Regions from separate parts of the Homo sapiens genome. Here all the other regions are linked to region 1. Evidence: fine-mapped expression QTL. A gene starts in region 1. Each other region holds a variant in brackets. All regions are shown on one strand. Distances are between the middles of the regions.

The links. PIP is the estimated chance that this variant, and not a neighbour inherited with it, causes the effect.
Region 2: its variant is fine-mapped to the expression of C12orf57 in whole blood (INTERVAL, PIP above 0.99).
Region 3: its variant is fine-mapped to the expression of C12orf57 in whole blood (INTERVAL, PIP above 0.99).

What each region holds. Positions count from the first base shown.
Region 1 is chr12:6,939,496-6,947,669 of GRCh38, forward strand. C12orf57 (chromosome 12 open reading frame 57) reads left to right here and starts at 4,527. Exons shown (of 3, transcript NM_138425.4): 1 at 4,527-4,678; 2 at 4,981-5,157; 3 at 6,276-6,507. The coding sequence starts at 4,627. The coding sequence ends at 6,427. ATN1 (atrophin 1) reads left to right here. Exons shown (of 10, transcript NM_001940.4): 8 at 1,385-1,528; 9 at 1,879-2,059; 10 at 2,252-2,826. The coding sequence ends at 2,285. RNU7-1 (RNA, U7 small nuclear 1) reads left to right here and starts at 4,321; the gene lies at 4,321-4,383. It also overlaps a transcript of PTPN6 not described here. RefSeq lists enhancers at 4,335-4,914, 4,414-4,603, 4,904-5,023, 4,915-5,494, 5,034-5,183 and 3 more and silencers at 4,817-5,076, 7,110-7,159.
Region 2 is chr12:6,831,645-6,839,818 of GRCh38, forward strand. P3H3 (prolyl 3-hydroxylase 3) reads left to right here. Exons shown (of 15, transcript NM_014262.5): 6 at 181-270; 7 at 1,948-2,000; 8 at 2,098-2,165; 9 at 2,281-2,405; 10 at 5,341-5,442; 11 at 5,779-5,929; 12 at 6,088-6,205; 13 at 6,314-6,389; 14 at 7,356-7,496; 15 at 7,653-8,174. The coding sequence ends at 7,817. Among named protein-coding and RNA genes, the nearest start is that of GNB3, 5.2 kb to the right of the region's middle. The variant A/AC (reference allele first, on the strand shown) is at 4,914.
Region 3 is chr12:7,751,695-7,759,868 of GRCh38, forward strand. No RefSeq gene overlaps it. Among named protein-coding and RNA genes, the nearest start is that of CLEC4C, 8.4 kb to the left of the region's middle. The variant C/A (reference allele first, on the strand shown) is at 4,202.

The DNA of each region.
Region 1 (8,174 bases):
ACCTGTCTTCTTATTTATTTTTTTGAGACATGGTCTGGCTCTGCCACCCAGGCTGGAGTGTAGTGGCGCAATCACAGCTCACTGCAGCCTCGACTTCCCGGTCTCAAGTGATCCTCCTACCTCAGCCTCTGGAGTAGCTGGGATTACAGGCGTGTGTCACCATACCTGGCTACTTTTTGTATTTTTGGTAGAGACGGGGTTTCGCCATGTTGGCCATGGCTGGTCTCAAATTCCTGAGCTCAAAGCGATCCACCCACCTCGGCCTCCCAAAGTCCTGAGATTACAGGCGTGAGCCACCGTGCCCAACCCACAAACCTATCTTCTGATTTCTCTGGATTCAACTCATTTTTTGCCATTTTCTCCTCTTCTCCCTCTGCGAGGTCTTTCATGTTTTTCCCCATCTCTAGATCTGTAACTTTCTAGAAAGGGCCCTGTAGCTTTGGGTTTGGGTGTCATAGGCGATAATGAGCTTTACTTACTATCCTTTCACCATTTTTTGGTTTTTGAGACGGAGTCTCGCCCTGTCACCAAGCTGGAGTGCAGTGGCGCGATCTCGGCTTACTGCAACCTCCGCCTCTGGGGTTCAAGTGATTCTTCTGCCTCAGCAGGCACTGCCTGCCCGAGTAGCTGGGACTGCAGGCGTGTGCCACCAAGTACAGCTAATTTTTGTATTTTTAGTAGACACGGGGTTTCACCATGTTGGCCAGGATAGTCTTGATCTCTTGACCTTGTGATCCACCCGCCTTGGCCTCCCAAAGTGCTGGAATTACAAGCGTGAGCCACCGCACCCGGCTTCCTTTTTTTCTTTTGCCCAGACTGGAGTGCAGTGGCGCGATCTCGGCTCACTGCAGCTTCCACCTCCCAGGTTCAAGCGATTCTCCTGCCTCAGCCTCCCGAGGAGCTGGGACTATAGGCGTGTGCCACCCTGCCTGGCTAATTTTTTTGTATTTTTTGTAGAAACAGGGTTTCACCATCTTGGCCAGGCTGGTCTTGAACTCCTCACCTCAGGTGAGCTGCCTGCCTCAGCCTCCCAAAGTGCTGAGATTATAGGCTTGAGCCACTGTGCCCGGCCTCTTCTTGTCTTATTTTCTAAACTTCTATCATCTTCCACCTTCTTCACGCAGTCTACCTCTCTCTGTCCTTCCCCTCAGACCCTTCTGATGACTGTAATCTCCTGTCCTGTGTCATCCATATGTCCCTCCTCCAGTAGGGCTCAGCCTGTCCACCCCTGCCAGGCCTCTAGTTCTTCCACTCTGCCTTTGTTCCACTTTGGACCTCCTTGTGTTTGTCTGACTCAGTTCCCAGGCTTGGATCCCTTCACCCAAATGCATGGTTTGCCCCAAACCTGCCTTCTGGTGACACCTTCCTCTTCTCTGCCCTCCAGCCTCTGCCTCGGTGCACCCTCTCATTGACCCCCTGGCCTCAGGGTCTCACCTTACCCGGATCCCCTACCCAGCTGGAACTCTCCCTAACCCCCTGCTTCCTCACCCTCTGCACGAGAACGAAGTTCTTCGTCACCAGCTCTTTGGTAAGGATGGAAGTTGGGGTAGGCAGCTCCAATGAGAAAAGGGCAGAAAGGAGGTATTTGGGTGGGGGGATGGGCCTAGTTGGGCTTGGGGAGGGATGAGGAGGTGCCTAGAGGAGCTGGGCATGGGAATAGGAGAGCTGGAGCTCTGCCCAAGAGAAGCACGAGTTTTAGTGTCAGCCTAAGAGGTTCGAATCCCAATTCCACCCTACCACTGGCAACTTACAGAACTGGGTGTGTTACCTCACTTTTTAGTTCATTACCTTTGTATGTAAAGGAGCTGGCTATCCCCTGGTCCAGAGCAGGTACTTGTTATCCGTTGGTCATATGCCCCTTGCCCTTCCTGCTCACAGCTGCCCCTTACCGGGACCTGCCGGCCTCCCTTTCTGCCCCGATGTCAGCAGCTCATCAGCTGCAGGCCATGCACGCACAGTCAGCTGAGCTGCAGCGCTTGGCGCTGGAACAGCAGCAGTGGCTGCATGCCCATCACCCGCTGCACAGTGTGCCGCTGCCTGCCCAGGAGGACTACTACAGGTACCCTAGGGTGCCCCAGCCCAGGGGACATGGGCTCAGCGAGCCTGGGAGGAGCTGTGGGCATGGTACGGCTGGGCACCGTGCTCCTGGGGGAGGGAACCCCTCCTCTCCCAACCCCTTCGGTAAGAGGGGGCAAGGTCAGAGTTGGTCTCAAGTCTCTTACCTCTCTGCTATGCACTGCCCCTTCCCTAGTCACCTGAAGAAGGAAAGCGACAAGCCACTGTAGAACCTGCGATCAAGAGAGCACCATGGCTCCTACATTGGACCTTGGAGCACCCCCACCCTCCCCCCACCGTGCCCTTGGCCTGCCACCCAGAGCCAAGAGGGTGCTGCTCAGTTGCAGGGCCTCCGCAGCTGGACAGAGAGTGGGGGAGGGAGGGACAGACAGAAGGCCAAGGCCCGATGTGGTGTGCAGAGGTGGGGAGGTGGCGAGGATGGGGACAGAAAGCGCACAGAATCTTGGACCAGGTCTCTCTTCCTTGTCCCCCCTGCTTTTCTCCTCCCCCATGCCCAACCCCTGTGGCCGCCGCCCCTCCCCTGCCCCGTTGGTGTGATTATTTCATCTGTTAGATGTGGCTGTTTTGCGTAGCATCGTGTGCCACCCCTGCCCCTCCCCGATCCCTGTGTGCGCGCCCCCTCTGCAATGTATGCCCCTTGCCCCTTCCCCACACTAATAATTTATATATATAAATATCTATATGACGCTCTTAAAAAAACATCCCAACCAAAACCAACCAAACAAAAACATCCTCACAACTCCCCAGGAACATGGCTGTGACTATTCTTTGCGGGATATGGGGGTGAGGCTGGGTCTCAGTGCAGCGGTGCTTAGAGAGAACTGCAGCCAGGGCCTGGCAGGGAAGCGGGAAGAGACCAGACCTTCTTAAGGAACGGGGTGTGGGGGCTGGGAAGAATTGGAGAGGGGATCCCTGAAGAGCCCAGAGCCTTGACTCAGCTGGAGGCGGTACCATGGGTGCTGGTGCCCCCTCCTGCCCCAAGGCTGGGCAGGACCGCTGCGCGCCAGTGGAGGCCTCGGTCTGGGCTCTGTGGCTTATGCCTGTGAGACGCGGGTGGATTGCTTGAGCCCAGGAGTTGGAAACCAGCTTGGGCAACATAGAGAAACCCCATCTTAAGACAAAATCAGCTGGGGGTTGTGGTGCACTTGTGGTCCCAGCTACTCAGGAGGCTGAGGTGGGAGGATCACTTGGGGGTCGAGGCTACAGTGAGTCATGATCGCACCACTGCACTCTAGCCTGGGTGACAGAGCAAGGCCCTATCTCAAAACAAACAAACAAAAGACACCCCAACCAACCAAACACTAGAGGCCTGGGACAGGCCCACCTCTGACGTGGTCAGTTCTAGGAATCTATTCAGACGGGTCTCACTGCTAGGAGCCACCAGAGTCCTCCGGAACAAGGGCTTCAGAGTCCTGAAACCTTTCCGTGGAATACTTTAAGAAACGGTTATGAGGCCAGGCGCGACGGCTCACGCTGGTAATCCCAGGACTTTGGGAGGCCGAGGCGGGCGGATCACGAGGTCAGGAGTTCCAGACCAGCTTGGCCAACATGGCAAAACCCTGTCTCTACTAAAAACAAAACATTAGCTGGGCATGGTGGCGCGCGCCTGTCGTCCCAGCGACTTGGGAGGTTGAGGCAGGAGAATCGCTTGAACCCGGGAGGTGGAGGTTATGGTGAGCCAAGATCCCCCCCAGCTGCACTCCAGCTTGGCGACAGAGCAAGACTCCGTCTCAAAAACAAAAAACAAAGCCGGTTATGAAGCGGGGGTGGGGTGGGCTAGTTTTAATAGGTCCAGGCGATTAGTACCTGGCATCCTTAACCACCTACAGTTTGAGAAGGGAGTGGGTGATAAAAGCCTGGAAGGGAAGGGAAATCGGGCCGGGCATTAGGCTCCATCGCTCATCAATAGACAAGGCCTTTAGGAAACTGCGACAACGGCTTTTGCTCTGGGCCTTTACTGCCGAATCCAGGTCTCCGGGCTTAACAACAACGAAGGGGCTGTGACTGGCTGCTTTCTCAACCAATCAGCACCGAACTCATTTGCATGGGCTGAGAACAAATGTTCGCGAACTCTAGAAATGAATGACTTAAGTAAGTTCCTTAGAATATTATTTTTCCTACTGAAAGTTACCACATGCGTCGTTGTTTATACAGTAATAGGAACAAGAAAAAAGTCACCTAAGCTCACCCTCATCAATTGTGGAGTTCCTTTATATCCCATCTTCTCTCCAAACACATACGCAGCAGTGTTACAGCTCTTTTAGAATTTGTCTAGTAGGCTTTCTGGCTTTTTACCGGAAAGCCCCTCTTATGATGTTTGTTGCCAATGATAGATTGTTTTCACTGTGCAAAAATTATGGGTAGTTTTGGTGGTCTTGATGCAGTTGTAAGCTTGGGGTATGAAGGTTTGGGCCACGCCTGGGCGCTTCCGGCTGCGCCGGATGCTGTTTCCTTTCCGCTCCCAGGGGCGTTGGGAACGGTTGTAGGACGTGGCTCTTTATTCGTGAGTTTTCCATTTACCTCCGCTGAACCTAGAGCTTCAGACGCCCTATGGCGTCCGCCTCGACCCAACCGGCGGCCTTGAGCGCTGAGCAAGCAAAGGGTGAGAATCGTCCTAGTCAAGGCATAGGCTGCTGGCCTGGGGTAGTCAAGGCATGGGCTGCTGGTCTGGGGAGGATGCGGGCGGAGGATGTGGGGCGACAAACCTGGCTACGTCCGCCGGGAAAATGGGGTAGGGGACGCCGGGTACCGTCCTTCTAAGTGGGGCGCTTGCCCCCAAGACTTGGGATCTTATTGGGTTACCTACAGCCTCAATCCACTAATTCCTTGCGCTCTCCGCTGGGCCCGCTGTCTGTTCTCCGACGCCTACCCGGGACGCCTCCCTGGGATGCTTCTGGCGCGCAGTGGTCCTCGCGGAGGTGATCCAGGCGTTCTCCGCCCCGGAGAATGCAGTGCGCATGGACGAGGCTCGGGATAACGCCTGCAACGACATGGGTAAGATGCTGCAATTCGTGCTGCCCGTGGCCACGCAGATCCAGCAGGAGGTTATCAAAGCCTATGGCTTCAGCTGCGACGGGGAAGGTGGGTCAGACGCGGGAAGGCGGGTCAGACGCGGGAAGGCGGGAGTTGGGTCGGGAGAGGGCGCCGGATCTGTGGGCCCATGAGCGGTTGTCCCCTTTCTCGCCACACGGCGGCAGCCACAATCTGACTAACATTCTTGGCACTCAGAGCCCAGGGTCTACCCTGAGCTTGTGCGTCCGAGTTGCGTTTTGTACAGTAGAGGTTCTGTATCCCTTACCCGAAATGGTTGGGACCGGAAGTGTTTCGGGTTTTTTCAGATTTCGGAATATTTACATATACATGGATATCTTGGGGGATGGGACCTAAATCTGAACACGAAATTGTTTTGTTTCATATACACGCACCTTATGCACATAGCCTGAGGGTAATTTTATATAATAGTCTGAATAATTTTGTGCATGAGACAAAGTTTTGACTGCGTTTTGACTACAGTCTCCCCCACCCCCCACTATGAAGTCAGGTGTGGAATTTTCCATTTTCGGCCTCACACTGGCACTCATAATTTCAGATTTTGGATTTTCTAATTAAGGATGGTCAACCTGTACTGTTAATCACATTATTATTCCATTTTGTGATGAGGAAGCAAACTCTAATGGTGCAGACTCTCGAGTAGCAGAGCTGGACTTAAATGCTGTTGTGCCACCTTTTAGTGACATGTCTGCATGACAGCAGTGGCTGCAGTCTCTCCAGGGTGTTTCAGCTAATTTTTGTTTGGGGGGGGTTGGTGGTTAAATTTTTGGTGAGATCCTGGTGTTCCCCAAAGGTGTTGACTGATTCAGCTCTGCTGCCTCATAGCCTTCCTGAGTTCCAGCTACAGACCTGGGGTCTCGTGTTCATTCTTGGGGTTCCAGTGACTAAACTGCTAAAATGGTTCACCTGAGAGCAAGAAGCACACTGCCTTGGGACATTTTCATTCACTGCATCCCATCTAGTTGTGCCCAGTGTAGACCAAATGTCATCATCCAAACCACACGGGACAGAGGCCTGCATGCGTCCTGTTTGGCAAACAGCTGCCCAGCCAGTGGGGGAGCAGTTCATGCTTAGACTACCACCCCCTCCAGGTGTCTTAGGCACGCTGGTCCTTAGGAGAAGGGTTGACCTTCCACTCCCTCTTGCAGGTGTCCTTAAGTTTGCTCGCTTGGTCAAGTCCTACGAAGCCCAGGATCCTGAGATCGCCAGCCTGTCAGGCAAGCTGAAGGCGCTGTTTCTGCCGCCCATGACCCTGCCACCCCATGGGCCTGCTGCTGGTGGCAGCGTGGCCGCCTCCTGAGAGTTGGCCCTCCCTTGTGCCACTGCCAGGGGAGGAAAGGCCTTGATGTTCCAGACAATAATAAATGCGCCTGTGACTTAGCCTTGGTGTCAGTCTCTTGCGGACCTGACAACCCCCATCTCTCCTTCCCTGATTCCCTCTGCCTTTCCAGGCCCCATCCCCCTGAACAGCTCCTCCCTATGGTCCTGGCTGGGCCTAACCCTGCCCCAGGGCCTAACCCTACCTGAGGCTCCTCCCCTTCCCCCGGGGCAGGTTGAGAGGCTGGAGTGGGTCCCTCAGCGCCCTGGGTGGGTGGGCCTGCACAGGGGGTACCTCCTTCTCTGAGGAACTGGGCTGTTAGGGATTTTCCTTAGGCCCTTTGGTTTCCGCCTACGGAGAGGTTTCCCCCATTGGTTGCTCTTCCTCAGCCAGGGTTACTTCCTGGTCTGTTCCCCTACCCAATACCCCGCCGCTCTGTCAGCTTGAGCTCCAGGTGGAGCTCCAGGTGGCTCCTCCTCTCCCGGGGGAAGGCGGCCCTGGACCAGCAGGCGGGCCTGCTGTACTCCCGCTTTGGGGCTGCAGGGAAGCTGGCCGCTGTGGGCGGTCTCGGGCCAGCCCCGCCCCACCTGTCCTTTTCCTGGAGACTATTAGTCCAGGGTTTGTCCCTGCAGTGCCATTGGCCTGGCAGGCAGGATCGAGGAGGAAGTGGCTGATTACTGAGCGGTTCTTCCTCACCTGGCTTGGGCCACTGTGCACAGCTGTGCCGCTGGCTCAGCCCCGCCCCCTGCGGCCCTCTGCCGTGGCTTCCCCCTCCCTACAGAGAGATGCTGTCCCGTGGGTAAGTCCCGGGCACCATCGGGGTCCCAGTCTCCTGTTAGTTTTGGAGGGAGGGAGGGCTTTGTTGATGCTCACTCCGACGTGTGTGAACGTGAGTGCGATCTGCCGCTGCCCTGCGCCTGTTTCCGGTCCCTATGAACTTCCCCTTCCCGCAAGGTGTGAGGACCCCCGGCTCACTCATGCTCCTCTGCCCCCTCTTTAACATTTTCCCCTGGACAAGTGTGTATCTGTTCTCTCCATTGCATTTCTACTTCCAGCCTCTGGGCTCCTGCTTCTGCCTCCTGCTTAGGACCTGTCCCCCTGGGTAGCTCACAACACCTCAAACATAGCAGTCAGAGGCCACCCGCGAAGGCCCTCCCACGTCCAGCCAACTTCTCCGCACTTCCCAACATCAGACTTTGGTCCCATCTTCTTTGTTTCCTTTCACTTCCCTTTCCCCTGCATCATTCATTCAACAGGTACGTGTTGAGCATCTATTATGCACCAGGTGCTGTTTAAGATGCTGGTAATACTGGAGTGAACAAGACAGACATGGTCTCTGCTCTCACGGAGCTTACATTCCAGTGGGAGGTTACAGACCGAACAAATAACCCAATAAATTGGATCATTGCAGATTCTCAGAAGTATTACGCAGAAAATAGACAGCCTTGGCCGGGTGTAGTGGTTCACACCTGTGATCCCAGCACTGTGGGAGGCTGAGGCGAGAGGATTGCTTGAGCCCAGGAGTTTGAGACCAGCCTGGCCAATATAGTGAGACCCTGTCTCTACAAAAAATAAGAAATTAGCTGGGTGTGGTGGCACACGTCCTGTGGTTCCAGCTATGGAGAGGCTAAGGTGAGAGGCTTGCTTGAGCCTGGGAGGTCAAGGCTGCAGTCAGCGATGATTGCACCACTGCACACCAGCCTGGGCGACAGAGTGAGACCTTGTCTCA
Region 2 (8,174 bases), 110 kb before region 1:
CTACACCCTTTCCAGTTTAAGTCCAGATGCTCTGAAGCTGCTGAGGGGGAACGTTGAACAGAGGAACCGGGGGGCATGGTGCCAGGTTCAAGGAGCATGGAGCACCCAGGCAGTGCCCTAGAGCCGGCGCTTCCCTGCCTTCCTCCAGCTACCCCTCACTGCTCATCATCTCACCCTCAGGACATCCAGCGCTTCATCCTCCGATCCCTGGGGGAGAAGAGGCAGCTCTACTATGCCATGGAGCACCTGGGGACCAGCTTCAAGGATCCTGTGAGTCACTCCACTTCTGCCCATCTCACCCCTCCGCACTCCCAGGAGGGATGGCACTTTGGTTTGCAACAGAGTTTTCCATTTTTCCACCATGAGGCTTGGAGAAGAGTCTGCCATCCCAGTTTTACAGGGACGGAGACAGTGTGCCTGTAGTTAGGGCGGCTTTGGGGTCACGCAGGCCTAAATGTCAGTCCTCCTCTGCCCCAAACATCTCTGAACTTCAACTTGCCTCTGCCTCAATTTCCTTACCTGTAAGTTGGAATAATCACATCTGTTTCACAGGGCTGTTGAAACCACATCATTTGATAACAAAATATAGAAAGCTCTGTTACTGCTGCTTTTATTTCTCTTCTTGTAGTTATGAGAGGAAACTGCGGGGCGGAGGTTATCTATGGCTAGGACTAGGGCATCAAGCAGGCGTTCTCAGTCTTCCTGGCGCTACTGATATTTTGGATCTGACATTTTGGATAATTCTTTGTTGGGGCAGAGGGCAGGGCCTGTCCTATGCCTTGGAGGGTGTTCAGCAGCTTCCCTGGTCTCTACCCAGTAGAGATCAATAGCACATTGACAGCCCCTGAGTCATGGCAATCAATGTTTCCACACTTTGCCTAATGACCCCTGGGGGCAGAAGTGTCCTGCTTGAGAACGACTGGCTAAATGTGTGAACTCTGAAGCTAGTTTTTTTTATTTTTATTTTTATTTTTGGAGACAGAGTCTCACTCTGTCACCCAGGCTGGAGGGCAATGGTGCGATCTTGGCTCACTGCAACCTCCACCTCCCAGGTTCAAGCGATTCTTCTGCCTCAGCCTCCTGAGTAGCTGGGATTACAGGTGCCCGCCATCTTGCCTGGCTAATTTTTGTATTTTTAGTAGAGATGGGGTTTCACCATGTTGGCCAGGCTGGTCTTGAACTCCTGACTTCAGGTGATCCACCCGCCTCGGACCCCCAAAGATGCTGGGATTACAGGCGTGAGCCACCGGAACCCGGCCTGCAGCTAGTTTAAAACCTAACGCTGCTTTGGGAGGCCGAGGCAGGTGGATCACCAGATCAGGAGTTCAAGACCAGCCTGGCCAACATAGTGAAACCCTGTCTCTACTAAAAATACAAAAAATTAGCTGGGCGTGGTGGCGGGCGCCTATAATCCCAGCTACCTGGGATGCTGAGGCAGGAGAATCGCTTGAACCCAGGAGGCGGAGGTTGCAGTGAGCTGAGATCGCGCCATAGCACTCCAGCCTGGGCGACAGTGTGAGACTCCGTCTCAAAAAAACAAAAAACAAAAAACAACAACAAAAAACAACTAACCCTGTCATTTGTAGCTGTGTGATCTTGAGCATGTTACTTTACTTCTCTGTGTCTCAGGGCTCTCAATTACAAAATGAGCACTTTAATATTCTGTTTCATGAGACTGTTGTGAACTTTAAAGGATAAATTCCATTTCCATGAATAAAGCTCTTAGAATAGCCCCTAGCAGATAGTAAGTGCTATATGAGTTATAGTTGTACTTGTTGTTACAGTTTGATCCACTGCCCAGGGCTCCTGACATTGAGTCCCGGGCTTTTCCTACCTCCGTCTTCCTCTCTGGAAACAGAAGAAACTTAATGAGATATTTCAGCTCTAATGTCAGGGATTCCAGGGGCTGACCTTGGTGGGTGATGATGCTTTTCTGGACTGTCGCAGGACCCCTGGACCCCTGCAGCTCTCATCCCTGAGGCACTTAGAGAAAAGCTCAGGTAGGATATGCCCCATGGTGGGAGGGGCTTGGCCCGAGCTGGGAGGCTGGGTCTGGACTGTCCTGGGCACCCACTGAGCGCATCTCTCACCCCTGAGAGAGGATCAAGAGAAGAGGCCTTGGGACCATGAGCCCGTGAAGCCAAAGCCCTTGACCTACTGGAAGGGTGAGTTCCTGGGAGGGAGAAGGCAGGAGCCTGGAGGGTCTGGGGGCTGCCAGCTACTGCTCTGCCTGCCCTTAGGGGATGCTCAGCCCCCTCTGCTCTGTCTTTTCCCTGGCAGATGTCCTTCTCCTGGAGGGTGTGACCTTGACCCAGGATTCCAGGCAGCTGAATGGGTCGGAGCGGGCGGTGTTGGATGGGCTGCTCACCCCAGCCGAGTGTGGGGTGCTGCTGCAGCTGGCTAAGGTAGGAAGACCTGCAAGCTCATCAGCTCGTTCAAGACTCTTGGATACAATCACCTGTTCCCTTGCTCTTGGCCTGCCCCCTTCATTCTGCCTGTCCTGATTATCCAACCGGGACTGTGCTTACCACTGCCTCTCAGCTGTGGATAAGTTCCGTCTCGTCTTAATTTAGCTGACATAGGTGGATGTTCTTTACAAATGAATTTTGCTAGAAATTGATAGGAAGAACAAAACAAAAAACATGAAGGCATAAAAATGGATGAGTGTGCAGGTAAGGATTGCTTGGTTAGCCAAGAGTTTAGTTACTGGCTTGGCTGATGGCTCAGCAGACACGCAGGCCTTTCTTTCCCTCCTAGTTTAGGTTGAATGACTCATACTCACCAGGTTGAGGCTACCATTTTATGAAGCTTCAACCCTTATCTTAGGTTAGTGCTCATTCAGTAATATACTCACTGAGTAGCTGCTATACACTAGAAACTGCTAGGTTCTAGGGAGAGGAAGATGATTATAGACTCTGCCCTTTGGGAGCTCAAGTGTAGAGGTGGAAACAGACAAGGAAATACATAATATAAGCAGGTGGTAAGTTTGGTAAAAGAAGTATGTTTTTGGGCTGGGTATGGTGGCTCATGCCTGTAATCCCAGCAATTTGGGAGGCCGAGGTGGGTGGATCACCTGAGGCTGGGAGTTCGAGACCAGCCTGACCAACATGGAGAAACCCTGTCTCTAATAAAAATACAAAAAAGTTAGCCAGGCGTGGTGGCACATGCCTGTAATCCCAGGTACTCGGGAGGCTGAGGCAGGAGAAGCGCCTGAACCCGGGAGGCGGAGGTTGTGGTGAGCTGATCTCGTGCCATTGCACTCCAGCGTGGGCAACAAGAGCGAAACTCCATCTCAAAAAAAAAAAAAAAAAGTATGTCAAATAGAAGCACTGAAATGCAGTTATAGAAGGCTTGCTGGAGAGGTGGTATTTGAGCTCAGTCTTAAGGATGAGTTAGTCAGGCGATTGGGGGTGGAATCAGTCTAAGAGGGAGAAGAGCATGGTGCATTCTGGGAACTGCAGTCAAGCACAGGGGTGAGAGCAGGGCCAGCTCCATAGTCATTACCTGTGTGATCTTGGGCAATTTATTTTAACATCTCTGAGCCTAATTTGCTCATCTATAAAATGAGGATAATAATAGTGTTTTTGTCATAGTGTCGTTGTGAGGATTAAATGAGTTAGCACATGATAAAGCTCTTAGAACACAGAATCATCACTGGCTGGGTGTGGTGGCTCATGCCTGTAATCCCAGCACTTTAGGAGGTCAAGGCAGGTGGATCACTTGAGGTCAGGAGTTCAAGACCAGCCTGGCCAACATGGTGAAACCCGGTCTTTACTAAAAATACAAAAAAATTAGTGGGCATTGTGGCAGGTGCCAGTAATCCCAACTACTGGGGAGGCTGAGGCAGGAGAATCGCTTGGACCCAGGAGGCGGAGGTCGCAGTGAGCCGAGATCGCACCATTGCAGTCCAGCCTGGGCAACAAGATCAAAACTCCGCCTCGAAAAATAAATTTTTTTAAATAATTAATTAATTAATTAATTAATTAAAAAAGAACATAGAATCATCAGGGTGTATGTTACCAAGAGACAGTATAGGGAAAGAGGGAGAGAGCCCACACATGAAGGCCGAGGGACAGTGAGTGTCTTCTGTGGCCTCCCAAGGAGTTTGGGCTTTATCTGTGTATGGTAGACAGCTGTTGCAGGATTTTAGGACGGTTGACTTTTGCATTCCTGTAGTACCTGGAATCAGGTGCAGGGTCTGGAGTCACCTGTAGGAGTGGTAGAGCCCTCTAGTGGCAGTCTGTAGAATGCAGTGGGAGAAAGACCCGGAAAAGGGGAGTAATTGACGAATGCCACCGTTGGCTGGCGAGGTGGCTCACACCTGTAATCCCAGCACTTTGGGAGGCTGAGGCAGGCGAATGGCTTGAGCCCAGGAGTTCCAGGCCAGCCTGAGCAACGTGGTAAAACCCCGTCTCTACAAAAATACAAAAAATTAGCTGGGCCTATGCGCCTATATGTTCCCACCTACTTGGGAGGCTGAGGTGGGAGGACCTCTGGAGCCTGGGAGGTGGAGATTGCAGTGAGCTATGATGGCGCCACTGCACTCCAGCCTGGGCGATAGAGCAAGACCCCGTCTCAAAAACAAAAAATGAAAAAAAAAAAAAACCCCAGGTTAGACGGCTTGGGTGACTAGGTGTCTCTCAGAAGTGAGATTTGTATGCAGGCGTAACTAGATAGTGGTGCTTAAACAAATTCAAAAAGTAGACAAAAAACGGGTGTCAGAAAAGCGAATAATTCCAGTGTAGACATCCAGATATTAGGAGACCCCCAGGTAGTGAGAGTGGTCGCGGAGGTGGCTGGGTAGTTGTGACTCAGTATCAAGGAGTGGGGGAGCCACGGAGTCCACAGTTTCTCCGAGAGCATGTCAGGTGGGAAGAGGTCAGAGAGGGATAGCCCGCTGATGCTGTCTCCCT[A/AC]CCGCCAGTCTGGCCTAACTGTGGAACTTCCTCTTAGGGTCCTGTTTCCAGAGGGACTCCTCTATTCTTGGCTCATCGGGGATTAATGATCAAGCCCTTCCTGCCTAGTTCCCAGCTCTGCCCCACTTTTCCAGCTGTCCCTACCCTCTCAGAGGCCCCCTTACTGCTGTAGGAAGCTCTCCCGAGTTCTCTCCACAGTCCCCTTAGTAAGCGGGATTCCAGCCCGTACCAGAGAGGGACAATCGGACAGCCGTGGCGGTGGGCACTCTCTGGGAAAGAGCAGCAGCTCAGGAAGACGAGCCACAACAGAACTGTGGGAGCATCTAGCTTCTTCTGGAGAGCGGGAGGGCCGGAGGGAGGGTCTTGCAGCCCTGCAGACAGTGAGGGGCTGGGGGAGTGACTCCACGGTAAACTCCTTCCTATTTAGGATGCAGCTGGGGCTGGAGCCAGGTCTGGCTATCGTGGTCGCCGCTCCCCTCACACCCCCCATGAACGCTTCGAGGGGCTCACGGTGCTTAAGGCTGCGCAGGTGAGCACAGGAGGCACCCGGGCCCGTCTGATGCCCAGACCTGGAGGAGAGGCTGTGCAGGAAGCCGGGCCCCAGGGCCTGGGCTTTTGTGAAGGAGCTTTCTTGGGACCGAGACTACCTGATAGGACCCAGCGTGGAGAAAAGGGATGTTCTGAGAGCTGGGGCCGGGGTTGTTGTCATGGAGAGAGAAGGAGCAGTTTGGGCTGATGGACAGAGCTGGATGCTGACAGACTCCAAACCCATGGGTGGAGAGCGGCAGAGTTGGGCAGGGGCTAGGGCCGAGACCACCCTCCCCTTGCCTTCCTCCTTTTCTGCCCTGCCTTTCACTGCCTGCAGCTGGCCCGGGCTGGGACAGTGGGCAGTCAGGGTGCTAAGCTGCTTCTGGAGGTGAGCGAGCGGGTGCGGACCTTGACCCAGGCCTACTTCTCCCCGGAACGGCCCCTGCATCTGTCCTTCACCCACCTGGTGTGCCGCAGCGCCATAGAAGGTACGACAGGGACCCCCCACTGCTCTTCTCCAACCTCAGGCCCTGCCCCCAGGACACTGCCCCCAAGAGCCCCGGGGTGGACGTGCACGGCCTGAGCCCACAGGGTGGCAGATGGGCACAGGGGCACAGAGGTACCCCCAGACCCCTTTGTGTCCTAGGAGAGCAAGAGCAGCGCATGGACCTGAGTCACCCAGTGCACGCAGACAACTGCGTCCTGGACCCTGACACGGGAGAGTGCTGGCGGGAGCCCCCAGCCTACACCTATCGGGACTACAGGTGGGCAGCCCCTCTAGTGGTCAGGCAGGTGGGCAGACAAAGGTCATCCCACTGCCGGCCTGGGCCTGGGTTGGGGTCTCACTGCCTCTTGCTTTTTTCCCTCCCCAGCGGACTCCTCTACCTCAACGATGACTTCCAGGGTGGGGACCTGTTCTTCACGGAGCCCAACGCCCTCACTGTCACGGTGCGTGGAGTGGGGGGTGTGACGGTGTGACAAAGGGCCCAGCTGTGGGGTCAGGATTCAAAACAGAAGGCTCCAGAGGCAAATGCAGGGAAATGGCCAGGGCTTTTAACCCTTTCACTTCCCCGCCTCCGCAGCCCTCCCGCTGCTTCCTCCGTAGCAAGGTCTCTAAGTGGCCGAATCAACCCTACCATCAGTATTTGTCTCGCCTCCTAAAGAAGGGTGAATGAAGCACAGCTTGCAGGTGCCTCCAGGACTCCATGGCCCTATTCTAGGGATTTGGGGAACTTGAAATAGTCCTTCCTCTTTGCAGCGAGGTGAGCACAGTGGCTGGCGCACAGATACCAGGGCCGCCTTGACTGGGGCTCGGATTCTGAACCTTTCTGAGGTTTAGTTTCCTAGACTGGGGTGATAATAATAGTACGTATTTTAAAGGGTCATTGTAGGAAGTAATTTAGGTAATGTACCTAAAAGAATGAGGCAGCGCCTGGTAATGATAAGCAATTAATGAATGTTAGGTGGGAAATTTCCGGACACCAGGGGCTAGGATTGGGTAGGAGGAGAGGGGCAGTGATTGTTCATCTGGGTGTGGGGTGTGAAAATGGTTCCAATATCTGTATCCCCTTCTGCATAGAGTCTGGTACTGCATGCACAGCCCCAGATTGCTTCAAGCCCTGGATTCAAAGGGCTGAGTGGGAAAAATCAGGGTACCAGGGGTCAGGAACCAACAGGAGACCATCCGTGGAGACCCCTTTTTCCTTTGGTTCCCAACTCCTCTTGCATTTTTGCTCTGCAAGTTGAAGCTGATTTCTCATTTGCCCCAAGCTAGTCCCTGAATTAAGGAGTAGGAAGTGGTAGCGAGAGAGCTGATCCTCTCTGTGCCCCTGTCCCCATCCTGCTCTAGGGAGTGAGGGCCAAGTTCTCTGAGAGAGCCAATCCCTGGAGCTGAACCTGCCCTCATCCCTCCAGGCTCGGGTGCGTCCTCGCTGTGGGCGCCTTGTGGCCTTCAGCTCCGGTGTCGAGAATCCCCATGGGGTGTGGGCCGTGACTCGGGGACGGCGCTGTGCCCTGGCACTGTGGCACACGTGGGCACCTGAGCACAGGGAGCAGGTAAGGAGCGGGGTAGGAAGGGATGTGGTTCTCCTGGTGCGTGAAGGGTGGGCAAGGAGCCCCCGAGAAGGCTCACAGTCGGTGAGGGTCAGGGGCTGAGCTGACCCAGGGAAGGTGGGTGCAGGGAATGGGCCACACTCTCCTCCCCAACCCCAGGAGTGGATAGAAGCCAAAGAACTGCTGCAGGAGTCACAGGAGGAGGAGGAAGAGGAAGAGGAAGAAATGCCCAGCAAAGACCCTTCCCCAGAGCCCCCTAGCCGCAGGCACCAGAGGGTCCAAGACAAGACTGGAAGGGCACCTCGGGTTCGGGAGGAGCTGTGAGTGGCTGAGCCAGCTCCTTGAGGATGTGGCCACTTGACTTGTGGAAGGCCATCTTGATGCCAGGACACACAGGAAGCCCCTGTGTGACATCAGGAGCAGAACAGCAAGCTCTCTGTCCCTGCACCCCCACCATCTTGGGGACCTACAAGGGCCTGGACTCAGAGGACAGTGCACAGGCTAGCCTGGAGCTCACCAGGCCTGGGGAGCTGGGACGGGGCCCCGCTGCCGGACCTGCAGCCCTGGACAGATGGGGAACACTGTGCCTCCCTGAACAGAAATGGCAGGGGAGGAGGCTGATGCTTTAAATGAAGAGGATGGTGGGGTTGGGAGGTATAACCCTGCTCCTCTCTCCCAGTC
Region 3 (8,174 bases), 810 kb after region 1:
GTGGTCTGTTTTGACAGTGCGCTGATTGGTGCGTTTACAAACCTTGAGCTAGACATAAAGGTTCTCCACGTCCCCGTCAGATCAGTTAGATACAGAGTATCCACATAAAGGTTCTCCAAGGCCCCACCAGAGCAGCTAGATACAGAGTGTCGATTGGTGCATTCACAAACTGAGCTAGACACAGGGTGTTGATTGGTGTGTTTACAAACCTTGAGCTAGATACAGAGTGCCTATTGGTGTATTTACAATCCCTGAGCTAGACATAAAGGTTCTCCACGGCCCCACCAGACTCAGGAGCCCAGCTGGCTTCACCCAGTGGATCACTGCACTGGGGCTGCAGGTGGAGCTGCCTGCCAGTCCGCGCCCTTGCGCCCGCACTCCTCAGCCCTTGGGTGGTCGATGGGACTGGGCGCCTTGGAGCAGGGGGTGGCGCTCATCGGGGAGGCTCGGCCGCACAGGAGCCCATGGCGGGGGAGAGGTGGGAGGCTCAGGCTTGGCGGGCTGCAGGTCCCGAGCCCTGCCCCGCGAGAAGGCAGCTAAGGCCCGGTGAGAAATCAAGTGCAGCGCCGGTGGGCTGGCACTGCTGGGGGACCCAGTACACCCTCTGCAGCCGCTGGCCCGGGTGCTAAGCCCCTCATTGCCCGGGGCCGGCAGGGCCGGCCGGCTGCTCCGAGTGCGGGGCCCGCCAAGCCCACGCCCACCCGGAACTCCAGCTGGCCCGCAAGCGCCGCGCGCAGCCCCGCCTCTCCCTCCACACCTCCCTGCAAGCTGAGGGAGCCGGCTCCGGCCTTGGCCAACCCAGAAAGGGGCTCCCACAGTGCAGCGGTGGGCTGAAGGGCTCCTGAAGTGCCGCCAAAGTGGGAGCCTAGGCAGAGGAGGCGCTGAGAGCGAGCGAGGGCTGTGAGGACTGCCAGCACGCTGTCACCTCTCAATTGCGCCACTGCACTCCTGGGTGACAGAGGGAGACTCTGTCTCAAAAGAAAGAAAGAAACCAATGAGAAAAGCAGTCCTTAGGGTTTAAGATTCTATTTTATAGCTAGCCAGGTGGAGATATTGGGCTTGTGTAAGAGGAAGTTAGTGGTCAGACCACGCAGGGTGAAGTGAGAGTTTAACTTATCCAATAGCAGAAAGAGCCATTAAAGGCACTAAAGCAATGTGGTGAAAGGATCAGATTATATTTTTTTATTTATTTATTTTTTGAGACAGAGTCGACAGAGGAAGACTCCGTCTCAAAAAAATAATAATAAAAAAAAAGTCCAACTTTGAATGTATTGTTTGCAGAGGATGAAGTGGCAAAAGAGACAAAGAAGAATATCCAGAGAAATAGGAAAAGTGAGTGTCTTAGTCCATTCAGGCTATTATTATTTTTTTTCTGAGATGGAGTCTCGTTCTGTCACCCAGGCTGCAGTGCAGTGGCACGATCTTGGCTCACTGCAACCTCCACCTACCGGCTTCAAGTGATTCTTCCGCCTCAGCCTCCCCAGTATCTGGGACTACAGGCGCATGCCTCCACGCCCAGCTAATTTTTGTATCTCTAGTAGAGATGAGGTTTCACCATGTTGGCCAGGCTTGGTCTCGAACTCCTGACCTCAGGTGATCCACCCACTTTGGCCTCCCACAGTGCTGGGATTACAGGCATGAGCCACCAGGCCCGGCCCATTCAGGCTATTATAAGAAAATACTGTAAACTGGGTGGCCAATAGCAGCTGCAATTTATTTCTCACAGTTTTGGAGGCTGGAAAGTTCAAGATCAAGGCACTGGCAGATTTGGTGTCTGGCAAAGGCCCACTTTCTGGTTTATATATGGCTCCTTCTTGCTGTGTCCTCACATGGTGGAAGGGATGAGCCAGCTTTCTGGGGTCTTTTATTATAAGGGCACTAATTTCACTCATTTGGTTGAACCCTCATGACCTAATCACCTTCCAAAGTCCCCACCTCCAATACTATCACCTTGGAGGTTAGGATTTCAACATATGAATTTTGGGGAGACACAAACATTCAGACCATAACACCAAGTGTCAAGAAAGCCAAGGGGGCCGGGCGCGGTGGCTCAGCCTGTAATCCCAGCACTCTGGGAGGCCGAGGCGGGCGGATCATGAGGTCAGGAGATGGAGACCATCGTGGCTAACACAGTGAAACCCCGTCTCTACTAAAAATACAAAAAATCAGCCGGGCGTGGTGGCAGGCGCCTGTGGTCCCAGCTACTCAGGAGGCTGAGGCAGGAGAATGGAGTGAACCCGGAAGATTGCAGGCATGAGCCACCGTGCCTGGTAGTTCTTTATCACTTTTAGCATCTATTTCATTTTAAAAATCTGATTGATTTTTAAAATGCTACTACTAAATTTTGGCTTTCCCTAAAAAGAAGCACCAGGGCTCATGGACAGCATGTATTTTTTAGAATTTTTAAATCAATGAGGAAATGAAAGCCAACCTCAAAAATGAGAAGCAGAAACTTCCAGTTTGGATTGTGGCTTAAATAGCTTGTGGCAGACCAATTGTTTGCTGAGACCAACCAGGAAAGCTGGATCAATACAAAAAAACTATTAGGAAGCATCAGAGAGGCTTCCACAGAACAAGGAATTTCAGGAGCCAAGACCCTAGAGAGAGAGAAAGCTGGACATGGCATCTGCTGGCTCTTCAGCAGTGACTGAAGGACTGAGTGTCTGTGCAGTGTCTGTACAACTGGGAGGCTGGTAACTAAATAATAAAACTTTAGACAAGGACTCCTCTATGAATAATGAAGAGCTGAGAATGGACCTTTTTTTTTTTTTTTTTTTTGGAGTAAGGGTCTCATTCTATTGCCCAGTCTGCAGTGCAGTGGCCCAATCTTGGCTCACTGTAACCTCCACCACCTGAGCTCAAGCCATCCTCCCACCTCAACCTCCCAAGTAGCTGGCACTACAGGCACACACCACCATGCCCAGTTAAGTTTTGCATTTTTGGTAGAGATGGGGTTTCACCAGGTTGCCCAAGGTGGTTTCGAACTCCTAGGTTCAAGCGATCCGCCCACCTTGTCCTCCCAAAGTGCTGAGATTACAGACATGTGGCACTGTGCCTGGCCCAAGAAGAGACTATTAATTCATAAAGAATGAAATCCAGTTTGTTATATATTTATTTATTTATTTATTTATTTATTTAGGACAGAGTCTTCCTCTGTTGCCCAGGTTAGAGTGCGGTGACCTGATCTCAGCTCACTGAAACCTCTGCCTCCCAGGTTCAAGCGATTCTCCTCCATCAGCCTTCTGAGAAGCTGGGACTATAGGTGCGCGCCACCACTCCTGGCCAATTTTAGTATTTTTAGTAGAGACGAGGTTTTACCACGTTGGCCAGGCTGGTCTCAAACTCCTGACCTCAGGTGATCTGCTGGCCTTGGCCTCCCAAAATGCTGGGATTACAGGCGTGAGCCACCATGCCCGGCTATTTTTTTTATTTTTTTATTTTTGAGATGAAGTCTTGTCTGGCTCTGTCACCCAGGCTAGAATGCAGTGGTGCATTTTAACTGATTGCAGCCTCCACCTTCCAGGTTCAAGCAATTCTCGTGCCTCAGCCTCCCAAGTAGCTGGGATTATAGGCATGAGCCACTGCCCAGCTAATTTTTGTATTTTTATTTTTATTTATTTATTTATTTTTTAGACGGAGTTTCACTCTCGTCGCCCAGGCTGGAGTGCAATGGCACGATCTCAGCTCACCACAACCTCCGCCTCCTGGGTTCAAACGATTCTCCTGCCTCAGCCTCCCAAGTAGCTGGGACTACAGGCGTGCGCCACCACACCCAGCTAATTTTTGTATTTTTAGTAGAGACGGGATTTCACCATCTTGGCCAGGCTCCTCTCGAACTCCTGGCCTCATGATCCACCCGCGTCGGCCTCCCAAAGTGCTGGGATTACAGGTGTGAGCCACCGCGCCCGGCCAATTTTTGTATTTTTAGTAGAGACAGAATTTTGCTATGTTGCCTAGATTGGTCTCAAACTCCTGGACTCTAGGTATCCGCCCGCCTCGGCCTTCCAAATGGCCTGTAACTTCCATTACAGGCGTTAGCCACTGAGCCTGGCCTAAAATTTTGAAATTAGTTTTGAACAAACTCAATGCCTGTTTGAATCAAGGTAAAATCTACTTTAACTCCGTCTGCCAAAGCAAAAGCAAAAGCAAAAGCAAAAGTAAATTGTCGGCTGGTCGCAGTGGTTCACACCTGTAATTTCAG[C/A]ACTTTGGGAGGCAGAGGCAGGCAGATCACCTGCGGTCAGGAGTTTGAGACCAGCCTAGCCAACATGGTGAAACCTTGTCTCTACTAAAAATACAAAAATTAGCCAGGTATGGTGGTGTGTGCCTGTAGACTCAGTTGCTCAGGGAGGCTAAGGCAGGAGAATCGTTTGAATCCGGGAGGCAGAGGTTGCAGTGAGCTGAGATCGTGCCACTGCACTCCAGCCTAGGCAACAGCGAGACTCCATATCAAAAAAAAAAAAGTAAATTGTCTCTGGAAAAAAAAGAAGATTGGCCGGGCGTGGTGGCTCACACCTGTAATCCCAGCACTTTGGGAGGCCAAGGCAGGCGGATCACCTGAGGTCAGGAGTTCGAGCCGGAGTATGAGCTTTCATATTAAAAGAAAGTCTGAGTGTGGTGGCTCATCCCTATAAACTCAGCACTTTGGGAGGCTGAGATGGGAGGGTCGCTTGAGGCCAGGAGTTCAAGATCAGCCTGGGCACCAAAGTGAGAGCCCCATCTTTACAAAAAATCTTTTAAAAATAGCAAGGCGAGATCAGGCGTGGTGGCTCACTTTGGGAGGCCGAGGCAGGAGGATCACCTGAGGTCAGGAGTTCAAGGCCAACCTCACCAACATGGCGAAACCCCATCTCTACTAAAAATACAAAAATTAGCCAGGTGTGGTGGTGCATGTCTGTAATCCCAGCTACTCGGGAGACTGAGGCAGGAGAATCACTTGAACCCAGGAGGCAGAGGTTATGGTGAGCCGAAATTTTACCACCGTTGCACTCCAGCCGGGGCAACAAGAGCAAGCCTCCACCTAAAAAAACAAAAAACAAAACAAAACAAAACAAAAAACAGGTGAGATGGCATGCACCTGCAGTCCCAGCTACTGGAGAATCTGGGACGAGAGAATTGCTTGAGCCCAGGAGTTCGAGGCTGTAGTGAGGTATGATGGTGTCACTGCACTCCAGCCTGGGCAATAGAGCAAGACTCCATCTCTAAAACAAATAAACAAAATGAAACAATATTTTCTCTTAACTTTAGAAACATTACATTTTCACCATGGAGAATGTAAATAATACAAAAAGTGAAAAGAAAAAATGAAAAACCACCTGCAATTCAATTACTTAGAAAGAACCATCCTGAACATCTTGTTTTTCCTTTTAGTCTTCTTAGCTGTAAACATGATATAATGTTTATATTACCATATACCTTTTTACAGGCATCAAGAGAGGCATGGAATTAAAAATGAGACTGCCCCAGGCACATGTGTAGGCGTGGAGTCTTGACCTGAGCATTCCATTTGTGGTTGAGACAGAAATGGAAGATTCAGTGCTGCCTCAGCAGGTGAGTCTCAGGGTCTAAAGGAATGCCTTTCAACAGAGGACTTTTATCAAGGAACAATTCGCAATTCCAGCACAGGCATATTTTTTGAAAGCCTATCTCCCTCTCTTCCTTCCTTCCTTCCTTTTTTTTTTTTTTTTTTTTTTTTTGGTTAGTTTCAGACATTAGGTTACTCTCTATGGGAAAGTTTACATCTTTATTGAAAACAATATTTTAAAATTCTTTGATATAAAAATACTGGGAGGCCAGGCGCGGTGGCTCGCACCTGTAATCTTAGCATTTTGGAAGGCCAAGTTGGGCGGATTGCCCGAGGTCAGGAGTTCGAGACCAGCCTGACCAACATGGTGAAACCCCATCCCTACTAAAAATACAAAAATTAGCCGGCATGGTGGCGGGCGCCTGTAATCCCAGCTACTTGGGAGGATGAGACCGGAGAATCGCTTGAACCCGGGAGGTGGAGGTTGCAGTGACCGGAGACCGCACCACTGCACTCCAGCCTGGGCCACAAGAGCAAAACTCTGTCACAAAACAAACAAACAAACAAACAAACAAACTGGGAATGCCTCTCTGCAAAATGGATCTCCAGAAATGTGTATTTCATATTTAGAAACTGCTAGCATCTGGAACACCAGGACATTTTCTCAAGTACATGTGAAAATACATTGTCAGCCGGGCTCGGTGGCTCAAGCCTGTAATCGAGGTGGGCGGATCACGAGGTCAGGAGTTCCAGACCAGCTCGGCCAACATGGTGAAACCCCATCTCTACTAAAAATACAAAAATTAGCCGGGCATGGTGGTGCGTGCCTGTAATCCCAGCTACTCGGGAGGCTGAGGCAGGAGAATGGCTTGAACCAGGAGGCAGAGGTTGCAGTGAGCCAAGATCGCGCCACTGCACTCCAGCCTGGGCGACAAGAGTGAGACTGCGTCTCAAAAAAAAAAAAAAAAAAAAAAAATCAGGCTTTGCTGGGTTTCCCCACTCAGTCTATTACCATTAGGTCGTTCCCTTTTTGTCCAGTCACATTTCTACACAGCTGTCCATTCTTCAGAGAAGCTAAGCATAAAAACAGACACTTTTTTCCTGAGTTTTTCGATCTTCATCTCTGAAGATTCCTTTGTCAAGTAAAACTTGGATTAGATAAATTTGTTATGCTTTTCTCTTGTTAATCTGCCTTTTGTTATTGGAGTGTCCTCCTGACTCTTACTATCAGGAGGAAAGGGATCACACCCTCTCCGCCCCTACACAGACATGCAAATTTTTGAGCCCCGCGTGTGAATTACTGAATCAGAAATTCTGGGGTGGGACCCAGGAACCTCATTTCAACAAGCCTTCCTGGGGATTATTATGCATGCTGAACTCTGAGAGCCACTGGCAGGGAGGGGGAAGGGGAAAGGCGGGTAGAATGCTTTCCAGAGGATATAGGGTTTTGCCATTTCAATAATTCCTATGGTTGTTCCTCTCCAATAGAATAGCTGTAAAGAGCTTCCTAAGAAGAAAAATGTACTAGAAAATCACTGTGCCACCTCCTTTTTGTGTCTACCCTTTAATCAGGTCATTGTTAAGCAGATTTGTCAAATTATTCAAAGCAGGTTTGAATAAATGTGTTGTACAGAGACTTCAGGGGGTTTATTTATCTGCGTTTTGGCAGGATTTCCCCTGTGGCTGGAAAGATTCAGATGCGCCTTCTTTCTTTCTTTCTTTTTTTTAGGCAGTCTCGCTCTGTCACCCAGACTGGAGTGCAGTGGCGCAATCTTGGCTCACTGCAACCTCCGCCTCCCGTGTTCAAGCAATTCTCCTGGCCCAGCCTTCCTAGTAGCTGGGATTACAAGTGCACGCCACAACACACAATGCCCGGCTAATTTTTGTATTTTTCGTAGAGACAGGGTTTCACCATGTTGGCCAGGCTGGTCTCGAACTCCTGACCTCAGGTGTTCTGCCCACCTCGACCTCCCAAAGTGCTGGGATTACAGGCGTGAGCCACCGCGCCCGGCCCCCAGATGCGCCTTCTTTCATCGCTTACCTGTACTGTTGTTCTTTTTCACTTTGGAAATGTAAAACCATCTATTAAGTATAGTTAATAGATGGTTATTATTCTCAAACAGCTAGGTAGATCAGAACAGAAATACCACACATGATTCTCAAATCCTCCAGGACAATCCTTCTCATTTCCCTGGATGACATCTTTCTTACTTTTGAGATTTGTAATCAGACAGGCTTTCTTCCTCTCCTGGCTCTGCCACTTAACTAAGCTGTGATCTACAAGTTACTGCCCTGCTCTAAACTTCAGCTTCGCAGTTGGTTCCATAGCTCAGGGGTTAGAGCACTGGTCTTGTAAACTTCAGCTTCCTCATTTATAAAATGAGGACTTGAATAATTTCTATCTCATAGGATTAGTTTAAGCGTTAGAGAATATTTATTTTTATTTATTTATTTTTTGAGACGGAGTTTCGCTCTTATTGCCCAGGCTGGAGTGCAATGGTGTGATCTCGGCTCACTGCAACCTCCACTTCCCAGGTTCAAGTGATTCTCCTGCCTCCCACTCCTGAGCAGCTGGGATTATAGGCGTGCGCCACCATGCCTAGTATTTTTAGTAGAGATGGGGCTTAGTAGAGATGGGGTTTCACCATGTTCG